Linked DNA regions of Homo sapiens. The protein of the gene in region 3 interacts with the protein of the main gene of each other region in a pairwise test. Each region holds a gene or a part of one and is shown on either strand. Other genes may lie near its edges.

Region 1 (3,577 bases), on a different chromosome or scaffold from region 3:
TTGGCCCTGTTCTGTCCCAACATGAAGGCAATAATTTGTTACCTCATTAATGGATCTATCCTTTTACTTTCTTAACCACTTCCTTATGCTACCCATGAAACCTAGTTGGGGCTCTGTTGTGTGTGATTTCCCCTGGCTTATTCTTTACTTTTTCCTCCTTTTCCAGGCTCAGCAGGGAGCTGCTGGAGGTAGTAGAGCCTGAAGTCTTGCAGGACTCACTGGATAGATGTTATTCAACTCCTTCCAGTTGTCTTGAACAGCCTGACTCCTGCCAGCCCTATGGAAGTTCCTTTTATGCATTGGAGGAAAAACATGTTGGCTTTTCTCTTGACGTGGGAGGTGAGTACCTTTCTATGAAGGTGATAAGCATCCACTGAGTCTTCCATATAAAGATCATATTCCTGCTCCAAGTGGCCATTACTGAGCTGAGAGATGTCATTGCCGCAGTGAGGACCTATAGGCACATGTAGGTTGAATGAAACTCTAGTTCTACCTGGAAGCCCAGACATGGGATGGGTCAGTGAGCATGGCTCTCTTCCTAGTCTCAGGCCATACCTGTGGCACTCTGATTCTACTCTCATGACATTGGACCTGGGCAGATGTGACAAATTCAGAGAACTATGATTTTGACTCAAGGGTTTGTAGATTTCCTTTTTCACTCTAATTTCAGTGTCTAAAGTCCTCACAACCATGAACAATCTGAGTATTTGATGAGACAGGGCTAAATATTGCAGTTTTTCTCCCAGAAATCATTTGAGGGTATTTGCTTTAAATTGATTGGAAAAATATGGCATAACTGTTTGCACAAACTTGGGACAAATGATATTGGGATAACGATCTACTAGAATAGGGACATTTTACCCACAGTTTCTGGGAGAAAAACCGAGGAATTTCTATCATGACCAGCCTTCAGGCCTCCTGAAATATATCTCTCACAGTGTCCTATTCTTATGCTGAGGAGCCTGAGGTCCCTGTGTGAGGATTAGACAGTGGATTGTTATGTGTGTAGGGGAATCAGCTTAATGTGTCTGTCCATGTCTGAATTTATTGCAGAAATTGAAAAGAAGGGGAAGGGGAAGAAAAGAAGGGGAAGAAGATCAAAGAAGGAAAGAAGAAGGGGAAGAAAAGAAGGGGAAGAAGATCAAAACCCACCATGCCCCAGGTGACTTTCAGCAATTGTGGATGCTTAATTCTGTGTTAACACCTGGAGGCAACAGATTCAGGGAAACCAGAGTGTGTTTGATGTCATGTTTTCAACGAAGGCTGAATTACTCCTACTGTCATTGCTGTTGGTTTTCATTGCAGTAGATGTTTAGGTTTCCATTTCTTCCTCCCCTTATCATTTACTAGCGTACCATAGGTTGACCATACTTCAAAAGCTGTACTCTCATGGCCACTGCATCGAATTTTGAGCATATTTTATGGAAAACTATTGAGCTCACTCTTTTCATGATCACAGTTTGCTGTGTGTCATGAGGGCACTAACTCAGAGTGTCCTTTTACTCCCTTACCAGTATGTCACCTGGCCAATTCACTAGGTCACTTTCTCTCTGTCTCTGTCTCTGTCTCTCTCTCTGTCTCTGTCTCTCTCTCTCTCTCTGTCTTTCTCTTTCATTGTTTTCTACCTGGCCCTGTTCTATCCCAACATAAAGGCAATAATTTGTTACCTCATTAATGGATCTGTCCTTTTTCTTTTCAAACTCTTCCTTAACGTTAGCCATGAAATCTAGCTGGGGCTGTGTGGTTTCTGATTCCCCCTGGCTTATTCTTTACTTTTTCCCACTTTTCCAGGCTCAGCAGGGAGCTGCTGGATGAGAAAGGGCCTGAAGTCTTGCAGGACTCACTGGATAGATGTTATTCAACTCCTTCAGGTTGTCTTGAACTGACTGACTCATGCCAGCCCTACAGAAGTGCCTTTTACATATTGGAGCAACAGTGTGTTGGCTTGGCTGTTGACATGGATGGTGAGTACCTTTCTATGAAGGTGATAAGGATCCACTGAGTCTTCTGGTTAGGGTCATATTCCTACTGCAAGTGGCCCTTACTGAGCTGAGAGATGTCATTGCCACAGGGAGGACCTATAGGCACATGTAGGTTGAATGAAACTCTAGTTCCACTTGGCAGCCCAGACAAGGGATGGGTCAGTGAGCAAGGCTCTCTCCCTAGTCTCAGGCCATGCCTGTGGAGCCCTAATCCTACTCTCATGACACTGGACCTGGGCAGATGTGACAAATTCACACAACTCTGATTTTGTCTCAATTTTGTAGATCTTGTAGATTTCATCCTTCACTCTAATTTCAGCGTCTAAAATCCTCGCTACCATGAACAATCTGAGTATTTGATGAGACAGGGCTGAATAGTGCAGTTTTTCTCCTAGCAACCATTTGGGGGTATTTGCTTTAAATCGATTGGAAAAATATGGCATAACCATTTGCACAAACTTGGGACAAATGATATTGGGATAACGATCTACCAGAATAGGGAATTTTACCCACAGTTTCTGGGACAAAAACCAAGGAATCTCTATGGTGATCAGCCTTCAGGCCTCCTGAAGAATATCTCTCACAGTGTCCTATTCTCATGCTGAGGAGCCTGAAGTCCCTGTGTGAGGATTAGACAGTGGATTGTTATGTGTGTAGGAGAACCAGCTTCATATGTCTGTCCATGTCTGAACTTATTGCAGAAATTGAAAAGTACCAAGAAGTGGAAGAAGACCAAGACCCATCATGCCCCAGGTAACTTTGAGCAATTATGGATGCTTAATTCTGTGTTGACACCTGGAGATGCCAGGTCCAGGGAAAACAAGAGTGTGTTCAATTTCATGTTTTCAACGAAGGTTGAATTACTCCTACTGACATGGCTGTTGGTTTTCATTGCAGTAGATGTTTAGGTTTCCATTTCTTCCTCCCCTTAACATTTACTAACTTACTATAGGTTGACCATACCTCAAAGGCTGTATGGCAACTGCATGGAATCTTGAGCAAGTTTATGGAAAATTATTGAGCCCACTCTTTTCATGATCACTGTTCGCTGTGTGTCCCGAGGGCACTAACTCAGAGTGTCCTTTGACCCCTTCATCAGTGTGTCACCCGGCCAACTCGCTGAGCTCACTTTCTCCTCTCTCTCTCTCTCTCTCTCTCTCTCCCTCTCCCTGTCTTTCTCTTTCATTCTTTTCTACCTGGCCCTGGTCTATCCCAACATAAAGGCAATAATTCATTACCTCATTAATGGATCTGTCCTTTTTCTTTTTAAACAGTTCCTTATGTTAGCCATGAAATCTAGCTGGGGCTGTGTGGTTTCTGATTCCCCCTGGCTTATTCTTTACTTTTTCCTACTTTTCCAGGCTCAGCAGGGAGCTGCTGGCTGAGAAAGAGCCTGAAGTCTTGCAGGACCCACTGGATAGATGTTATTCGACTCCTTCAGGTTATCTTGAACTGCCTGACTTAGGCCAGCCCTACAGCAGTGCTGTTTACTCATTGGAGGAACAGTACCTTGGCTTGGCTCTTGACGTGGACAGTGAGTACCTTACTATGAAGGTGATAAGCCTCCACCTGGTCTTCCAGATAGGGGTGATATT
Region 2 (2,822 bases), on a different chromosome or scaffold from region 3:
AGGACAGAGAGAGACAGAGAGAGAGAGAGAAAGAGAGAGAGAAAGGCAGAAAGAGAGAGAGAGAGACAGTGAGAGGGGAAGTGCCACACTTTTAAACCATCAGATCTTGTGAGAACTCACTATCACGAGAACAGCAAGGGAAAAATCTGCCCCCATGATCTAATTACCTCCCACCAGGCCCCTCCTCTGACACGTGGTGATTACAATATGAGAAGAGATTTGGGTATGAACACAGAGAACCAAACTGTATCACGTGTAAAAATCCATTTGGCTAAAAATGACACCAAAGCATGTTACAGTGTCTTAAAAGATAGGTTTTGTTATGCTTTCACCTGCATGCTCATCTCCTCAATGTCAAAAGACCATTATGTACAATTAGGCAAGGTGTTTACATTCCAGGAAGAAAGGAAAATGAATACAGGAACAATAAAGAATTGTACCTACTCAAAGGGCAAAGAATTTCCCAGATTCTCTTGGCCAGAACTTTGCCACAAGGTTATCCCAAGTCCCACATAGTCTGTGGAAGCAAATACTTTTAGCTGACTACATTGCTCAAGCAAAATTAATGTTCTGATAGCAAAGAAGAAAGACCAATAGATATTGGGTGGGCAACTAGCAGGTAATTCCATACTCTAAAATTGTCCCTCAGGGGAATGGTAGCCATTCAATACATCACTTCTTTTTTCTTTCTTAGAAAGGAAAAAAGTGTCTCCGCACCAAGAAGTCACTCAAAGCCATCCACCTGCAGTTCAAGAACTGCACCAGCCTGCACACCTACAAGCCCAGGTTCTGTGGGGTCTGCAGTGATGGCCGCTGCTGCACTCCCCACAATACCAAAACCATCCAGGCAGAGTTTCAGTGCTCCCCAGGGCAAATAGTCAAGAAGCCAGTGATGGTCATTGGGACCTGCACCTGTCACACCAACTGTCCTAAGAACAATGAGGCCTTCCTCCAGGAGCTGGAGCTGAAGACTACCAGAGGGAAAATGTAACCTGTCACTCAAGAAGCACACCTACAGAGCACCTGTAGCTGCTGCGCCACCCACCATCAAAGGAATATAAGAAAAGTAATGAAGAATCACGATTTCATCCTTGAATCCTATGTATTTTCCTAATGTGATCATATGAGGACCTTTATATCTGTCTTTTATTTAACAAAAAATGTAATTAACTGTAAACTTGGAATCAAGGTAAGCTCAGGATATGGCTTAGGAATGACTTACTTTCCTGTGGTTTTATTACAAATGCAAATTTCTATAAATTTAAGAAAACAAGTATATAATTTACTTTGTAGACTGTTTCACATTGCACTCATCATATTTTGTTGTGCACTAGTGCAATTCCAAGAAAATATCACTGTAATGAGTCAGTGAAGTCTAGAATCATACTTAACATTTCATTGTACAAGTATTACAACCATATATTGAGGTTCATTGGGAAGATTCTCTATTGGCTCCCTTTTTGGGTAAACCAGCTCTGAACTTCCAAGCTCCAAATCCAAGGAAACATGCAGCTCTTCAACATGACATCCAGAGATGACTATTACTTTTCTGTTTAGTTTTACACTAGGAAACGTGTTGTATCTACAGTAATGAAATGTTTACTAAGTGGACTGGTGTCATAAACTTTCTCCATTTAAGACACATTGACTCCTTTCCAATAGAAAGAAACTAAACAGAAAACTCCCAATACAAAGATGACTGGTCCCTCATAGCCCTCAGACATTTATATATTGGAAGCTGCTGAGGCCCCCAAGTTTTTTAATTAAGCAGAAACAGCATATTAGCAGGGATTCTCTCATCTAACTGATGAGTAAACTGAGGCCCAAAGCACTTGCTTACATCCTCTGATAGCTGTTTCAAATGTGCATTTTGTGGAATTTTGAGAAAAATAGAGCAAAATCAACATGACTGGTGGTGAGAGACCACACATTTTATGAGAGTTTGGAATTATTGTAGACATGCCCAAAACTTATCCTTGGGCCATAATTATGAAAACTCATGATCAAGATATATGTGTATACATACATGTATCTGGTTTGTCAGGCTACAAGGTAGGCTGCAAAATTAAATCTAGACATTCTTTTAATGCCACCACACGTGTTCCGCTTCTCTCTTTTAAAGTATTTATAAAAATATAAATTGTACATTTTGTAAAATATTATGTTTGATTTCTCTACTTGTCATATCACTAAATAAACACGATTTTATTGCTGCGTGACTCTGTATTACTTTGGTGCATAAAAGTTGAACATTGTTGTTTACTGAAAATAAAATTAAAATTTATGAATTAAATGAGACATCAATCAATAGCATCTATTGAAAGCAAAATGAGTATTTCTGGATGAGCTTACAACTTCTTATCAGAAGGGAAACAAAAGACAACTCAGTATTCCTGAGTTAGATGTTCCTCACCATCACAGCCTCAACTAGCCTCCACACTACTTACCCAGACCCTCATCTCAAGCCCTGATCTTTTTTTTTCTGGACAGCCCGCTAGACACCTCTGTATATTGAAATTTAAACTTGTTATCTGACCAAACAAAATTCAGCTCTGTGGCTTCCTCATCTAATCAAAGGGCATCCCATCCTCCCAATTGCACGGCTTAAATGGCCAGCACTTTCTTGATCAGTATTATCTTGCCAAGTACCCAGAAAAGCATATTTCCATTGATCATGGGGAATTGCGTGACAAACTGGGCTGCACACTGGGCAGAGTCACAGTTAATAGAAGTTTTGTGTTTGGAAGCTTCTTGCTGATGCAGTGTGGCTCTCAAGTTCTATAATTTGTAAGGAAAAATCTTTTCAAAAGAGTTTTACTATT
Region 3 (2,228 bases):
TCCAGTTGAGAGCCAGCATTGCTGACTGGGTAATAGTATCATCTTTACACATAGTTTTTTTCTTGGAAGGTTCATTGAAATGAGACACCATATAAAACAATAGCATGTGGTACTTGGCATTTAAAAAGCCCTTTTTAAATAGTAGTTACTATTATAGGAAAAAGACCGAAATTCCCCAGGTATTCTCTTCCTTTAATTTGGTTCTTGTTCTGGTATGAAATCCTAATTATTATACTTATTTATAAATTTAAAGTAGATAAGTCATCTCTGTGATATACATACAACATACATACTACACACACATAGACACACAATGTGTATGCATGTGTATATAATTCTTGCAATATTTATATATAAAATTCTCAGATTAAAAGAGCATCTCGAAGTATATAGCATTTTTGAGCCTTTCGTCGCCTTTTGCAGAATGTATAATAATAAATTTAATTATTTTATTTGCAGCATGGGAGCTTTGTGTGTTTTATAGCATTTGAACCCAAAAGACAGGCAGCTGTCTATAAGGCTATATTCCATTGCAAGCTTTTAGTGATTTGATAAAAGACAAAAGAAAATTCTAAGAACCAAATAACGGGATTTTAAAATTAATCTATTTCCCACAGGTGTTTCATGCAATCGGCTTGGTCAGCACTCATGTCTCCGTTGTAAGGTATACCAATGCGTTTTTTTCTTTTTAGATTTTGTTTTTAATCTCTATACCCCTCCACCAGTCCTTGGCTTATATGCAGCTATAATTAATTTATAAGGGACCTTAAAATTATGTAGTCTAATTCTTTTATTTTTGAGACTGTGGAATTGAAGTTGAGAAAGCTTACATGACTTTCCAATGGTCATCCAGTCACCTTTTAGTAGAGCTGTGGCTAGTGCACATTTCTCTGGAATCCTGGCTCTGTGTTTTTAGTGGAGAACATTCTGACCAAGATGATGAGAGTCTATTTTAATTAATGTCAAAATATACCTGCTTAGAAGAGTTTGGGTAAAGATTTCCAAATTTTTCTGTGTCCTTAGGCCTAGTCTCTAGCATTCGTTCGTCAAAGATTACTAAACAGATGCAGCCAATGCCCTTCCTCTCAGAAGCGTTTCTCTAGTTCTTATATTCCTAACCCTATGTCTTATTTATCTTCCAACTCTGTTCTAGTTTTACCAAATGGTGTTCAGGCATTATCTGTGTTTTCTTTGTCTGGAATACTTTTCCATCTTGGCTTACCCTATTGCCCTCCCATTCTTCATATGGCTATTAAGACTTCGTGTCTCTAAGATGCCTTTCCCAAATCCCATGTCTGCTTTAGTGCCCTTCCCTCTGCACTTCCCGTTCAGTGCTTAGTGTCTTGTAATTGCCTTTTCACTGTCTCCATCCCTAGTTAGACCATACACTGTGTGAGAGTAAATAGGCTGTTCACCATTATTTCATTTCATCAGGGACCTTATGAGTACTGAAATATTTGTGAACAGCTAAATGTACTTACATGTCATACTCAATATAGTCTGCCTTTTGTTAGATCATTGTTCAGAAGGGTCCTGACAAAAACCATTTCTGTTAAGAAAATGAAATGAGAAGTGTGACTGCTCCCAACAAAATTGTTAATCTCACTGCCTTAATAAAGCTATATCTTTAAAACACTGAATACTGTCTTTTTGTATATTTTTACATTTTTATTTATTTACTTTATTTTGCTTCTCCTATACAGGCTTGTTTCTGTGATGATCATACAAGGAGCAAAGTGTTTAAGCAAGAAAAAGGAAAACAGCCTCCTTGTCCTAAATGTGGGCATGAAACTCAGGAGACTAAGGACCTTAGCATGTCAAGTAAGGCCCTTAAGATACTAAGGAAGTGATTTTTGCTTTCATACTTAGACAAAGTTTATCTTTTTTTTTTTTGGTCTATTTTTCTTATTGCCTCTTCTTATTTGAAAAGATGAATGTGTTCTTTTAAGCAAGTGGAATTTTACAGCTTAGGAAAATATGTGGGTAAAGTTTTTCAGTTTTACTTAAATAGACCAATATTCATTTTGATATTTGGTATTTGCCTTAGTTAATGACAGCAAATACTGAAATTTAAGATAAAGAGTGATTTTTTTTTATTTTTGTTGAGTCTTCCTTGTTAAATAGTTGAGTAGCTATAATTCCTTAATATTAAAGTGGTGGTAATTTTAAGTACCTAGAAGTCAAATTCACTCTGAAGCTATCTTAGGTGTGTGATATTTGAGCACCTA
Region 4 (3,577 bases), on a different chromosome or scaffold from region 3:
TCTGCCTCAGCCTCCCGAGTAGTTGGGATTACAGGTGTGTACAGGTATGCACCACCATGCCCGGCTTAATTTTTGTATTTTTAGTAGAGACACAGTTTCACCATGTTGGCCAAGCTGGTCTAGAACTCCTGGCTTCAGGTGATCTGCCTGCCTCAGCCTCCCAAAGTGCAGGGATTACAGGCATGAGCCACTGTGCCTGGCCTTAACATTTTTTTGTAGATACAGAGTCTCACTATGTTGCCCAGGCTGGTTTTGAACTCCTGGGCTCAAGCTGTCCTCCTGCCTCAGCCTCCCAAAATGCTGGGACTACAGTCATGAGCCATCCCACCCATTCTAAATGCTCACTGTTATAATGTTTTAGGAGCAAGCAGTGTGGTGTGTGAGATGGCATACCTAAAACCAAAAATGTATTTGGAAGTTGGTTTTAGGCAACCCAGCAATGCCTGCATAGGTTTTCTTAGGAAGAAAACATATCTCTGAACTTTTCTTTCTTTTTTTTTTTTTTTTTTTGAGACAGAATCTCACCCTGTCACCCAGGCTGGAATGCAGTGGCATGATCTCGGCTCACTGCAACCTCTGCCCCCTGGGTTCAAGTGATTCTCCTGCCTCAGCCTCCCAAGTAGCTGGGATTACAGGCACCTGCCATTGCACCAGGCTATTTTTTGTATTTTTAGTAGAGACGGGGTTTCACCATCTTGGCCAGGCTGGTCTTGAACTCCTGACCTCATGATCTGCCCGCCTCGGCCTCCCAAAGTGCTGGGATTACAGGTGTGAGCCACCATGCCCGGCCTTCTCTTTTTAATTTGATTTTTACTATTATGACCTCAACTAGTAGAGATTTGCATAACTTTCTTAGTCCCTCCAATATTTCTGCAGATTGACTTTGCCTAGATATGGATTAAATTCCTATTATGAAGGGGAGATAATGAAGTGATTTTGACTATCCTTTAAACTTACTGAAGAGGCAAGGTGTGAACTGATACCTGAAATGTGTTCCCCTAGGCTTGGTACTTTTGCAATAGTGAATATAAGGTCAGAACACATATACTTATAAAGTATGTATACTTATGTATGTTCTGACCTTATATTCATACATAGTTATAAAGCATGTCAGTGAGCATTCAGCCTTCCGCACACCCATTCAAAGAATGCAAGGGTTCTAGGGGGAATTTATGATGTGGAATTTCCCAGAGCCAGATAGCATTAGCATGAGAGGATCTATCAGTCCAAACCTGGGAAGTAGGATTTCATATTTAAAATTTTCTTTTTCAGTATCCCTAAAGAGATTAATTAGATGCCAGTTGACTTCGTGCCTTGTAGTCTTTCTTCTTAGCTTGCTTGCAGGCTTAGCTTGACTTGGTCTAGTGCCAGAGGAGTCTTGCTGTCTTTGGTGTACTTTTCCTAAGAGTTGAATTGTGTTGGTTTTTGTTGTTTGACACAGAGTCTTGCTCTATCACCCAGGCTGGAGTGCAGTGGCGTAATCTCGGCTCACTGCAACCTCCACCTCCCAAGTTCAAGTGATTCTCATGCCTCAGCCTCCTGATTAGCTAGGATTACATGCATGCGCCAGCCACCACACCCGGCTAATTTTCATATTTTTAGTTGAAACGAGGTTTCACCATGTTGGGCAGGCTGGTCTTGAACTCCTGACCTCAAATGATTATCCCGCCTCGGATTCCCCAAAGTGCTGAGATTACAGGTGTGAGCCACTTTGCCCAGCTTGAATTGTGTTGTTTTTATTTTTTTGTAAGTTTTTTAAATTTTTTATTGTTTTCGAGATGGAGTTTCACTCTTGTTACCCAGGCTGGAGTGCAATGGCACAATCTCTGCTCACCGCAACCTCCACCTCCCGGGTTCAAACAATTCTCCTGCCTCAGCCTTCCGAGTAGCTGGGATTCCAGGCACGTGCCACCACACCCAGCTAATTTTGTATTTTCAGTAGAGACGAGGTTTCTCCATGTTGTTCAGGCTGGTCTCGAACTCCCAACCTCAGGTGATCCGCCCGTCTCAGCCTCCCAAAGTGGTGGGATTACAGACGTGAGCCACCGTGCCTGGCAAATTGTGTTAGTTTTAAAACAATTCCCTGAAGCTATCTAAAAGTCTTTTGGCAAAATCCCCTTTGAAATAGCTTTATTAATGAAAAGTAAAGCCATGTGTAGAATTTCACAAAGGAGCAAGTACCACTCACTCATTTAAATGACAGCTACCGAGTGCCTCTATCAGAACACAGTGGTTGATGATGATGACAATAAGGATTTCCCTCATTTACCCCTCCCCAGAACCCTAGGAAGTGGGTGGTTTTTCACTGTTTGTTTTTCTTTCTTTCTTTAGTTTTTTTGAGACGGAGTCTCGCTGTGTCGCCCAGGCTGGAGTGTGGTGGCGCAATCTCGGCTCACTGCAAGCTCCGCCCCCCGGGTTCACGCCATTCTCCTGCCTCAGCCTCCCGAGTAGCTGGGAATACAGGCACCCGCCACCACGCCCGGCTAATTTTTTTGTATTTTTAGTAGAGACCGGGTTTCACCGTGTGAGCCAGGATGGTCTCGATCTCCTGAGCTCGTGATCTGCCCTCCTCGGCCTGCCAAAGTGCTGGGATTACAGGCGTGAATCACTGCGCCTGGCTCTTTTTTTTTTTTTTTTTTCATATGGATTTTTGCTCTTGTTGCCCAGGCTGGAGTGCAATGGCGCGATTTCGGCTCACCACAACTTCCGCCTCCCGGGTTCAAGCGATTCTCCTGCCTCAGCCTCCCAAGTAGCTGGGATTACAGGCATGCACCACCACGCCTGGCTAATTTTGTATTTTTAGTAGAGACGGGGTTTCTCCATGTTGGTCAGGCTGGTCTCCAACTCCTGACCTCAGGTGATCCACCCGCCTCAGCCTCCCAAAGTGCTGGGATTACAGGTGTGAGCTACTGCGCCTGGCTCTTCACTGTGTTTCTAGATAAGGAATCAAGTGGCCAGATAACTGGAGGGTAGTTGGATGGAGATTTGGGCATGCTCTATTGAACTCTGAGGCTGTACTGCCTGCCACCTGTCTCTGCTTTTCCCAGGGATCCTACAAAACTCACTTAAATCTGACATCGCTTCCTGCTCAGAGGAGCCCAGCTGATTGGGTGCCGTGGGAGATCAGACAGTCAGGCTCGGGCTTTACAGGACACTTTTAAAAGTACATTCTCGCAAATTAAATGTCATCTACTCAATAAACATGTATTTTGTGCCAGGTCTGGTGCTGGGCTTGGGAATGCAGCAGTGAGTTCTGAAAGGAGATTCATTATTTGGAGAGGCAGACATTGGAGAGTGCGGTGACACGGGGACCAGAGAGGGCAATGAGGAGTTAGCCCTTCAGCAAGACTAGAGCTTGTAGAGCATGGGCAATCAGAGTGCATGACTCTGGAGTCTAGGTGAAGTCAGGCGGGGGACAAGGAGCCTTGAGGAGATGGCCAAGATCTGGACTTGAGGCTTTGCCTAGGCAAAGAAAGTGGATGCGGCATTGTAGGCTTGGTGCAAGCATGCATGCAAGGCAGGCGTGGAGCATGAAGGCATGCATTGTGGTCCCATCGGGCATGAGTGGTGGGCGTGA

The links.
Region 1: the proteins of ZNF330 (region 3) and NBPF19 interact in a two-hybrid assay, tested with the Homo sapiens proteins (one large-scale study listed by BioGRID).
Region 2: the proteins of ZNF330 (region 3) and CCN3 interact in binary tests that used the Homo sapiens proteins (3 or more experiments, as listed by UniProt).
Region 4: the proteins of ZNF330 (region 3) and PBX4 interact in binary tests that used the Homo sapiens proteins (3 or more experiments, as listed by UniProt).

What each region holds. Positions count from the first base shown.
Region 1 is NC_000001.11:149,547,984-149,551,560, forward strand, and holds part of NBPF19 (NBPF family member NBPF19), read left to right. Parts: intron 1-166; coding exon 167-339; intron 340-1,053; coding exon 1,054-1,162; intron 1,163-1,791; coding exon 1,792-1,964; intron 1,965-2,683; coding exon 2,684-2,735; intron 2,736-3,343; coding exon 3,344-3,516; intron 3,517-3,577.
Region 2 is NC_000008.11:119,422,142-119,424,963, forward strand, and holds the end of CCN3 (CCN family member 3 precursor), read left to right. Parts: intron 1-694; coding exon 695-991; 3' UTR 992-2,293; downstream 2,294-2,822. UniProt on the Homo sapiens protein: Immediate-early protein playing a role in various cellular processes including proliferation, adhesion, migration, differentiation and survival. Acts by binding to integrins or membrane receptors such as NOTCH1.
Region 3 is NC_000004.12:141,230,822-141,233,049, forward strand, and holds part of ZNF330 (zinc finger protein 330), read left to right. Parts: intron 1-617; coding exon 618-664; intron 665-1,703; coding exon 1,704-1,821; intron 1,822-2,228.
Region 4 is NC_000019.10:19,608,612-19,612,188, reverse strand, and holds part of PBX4 (pre-B-cell leukemia transcription factor 4), read left to right. Parts: intron 1-3,577.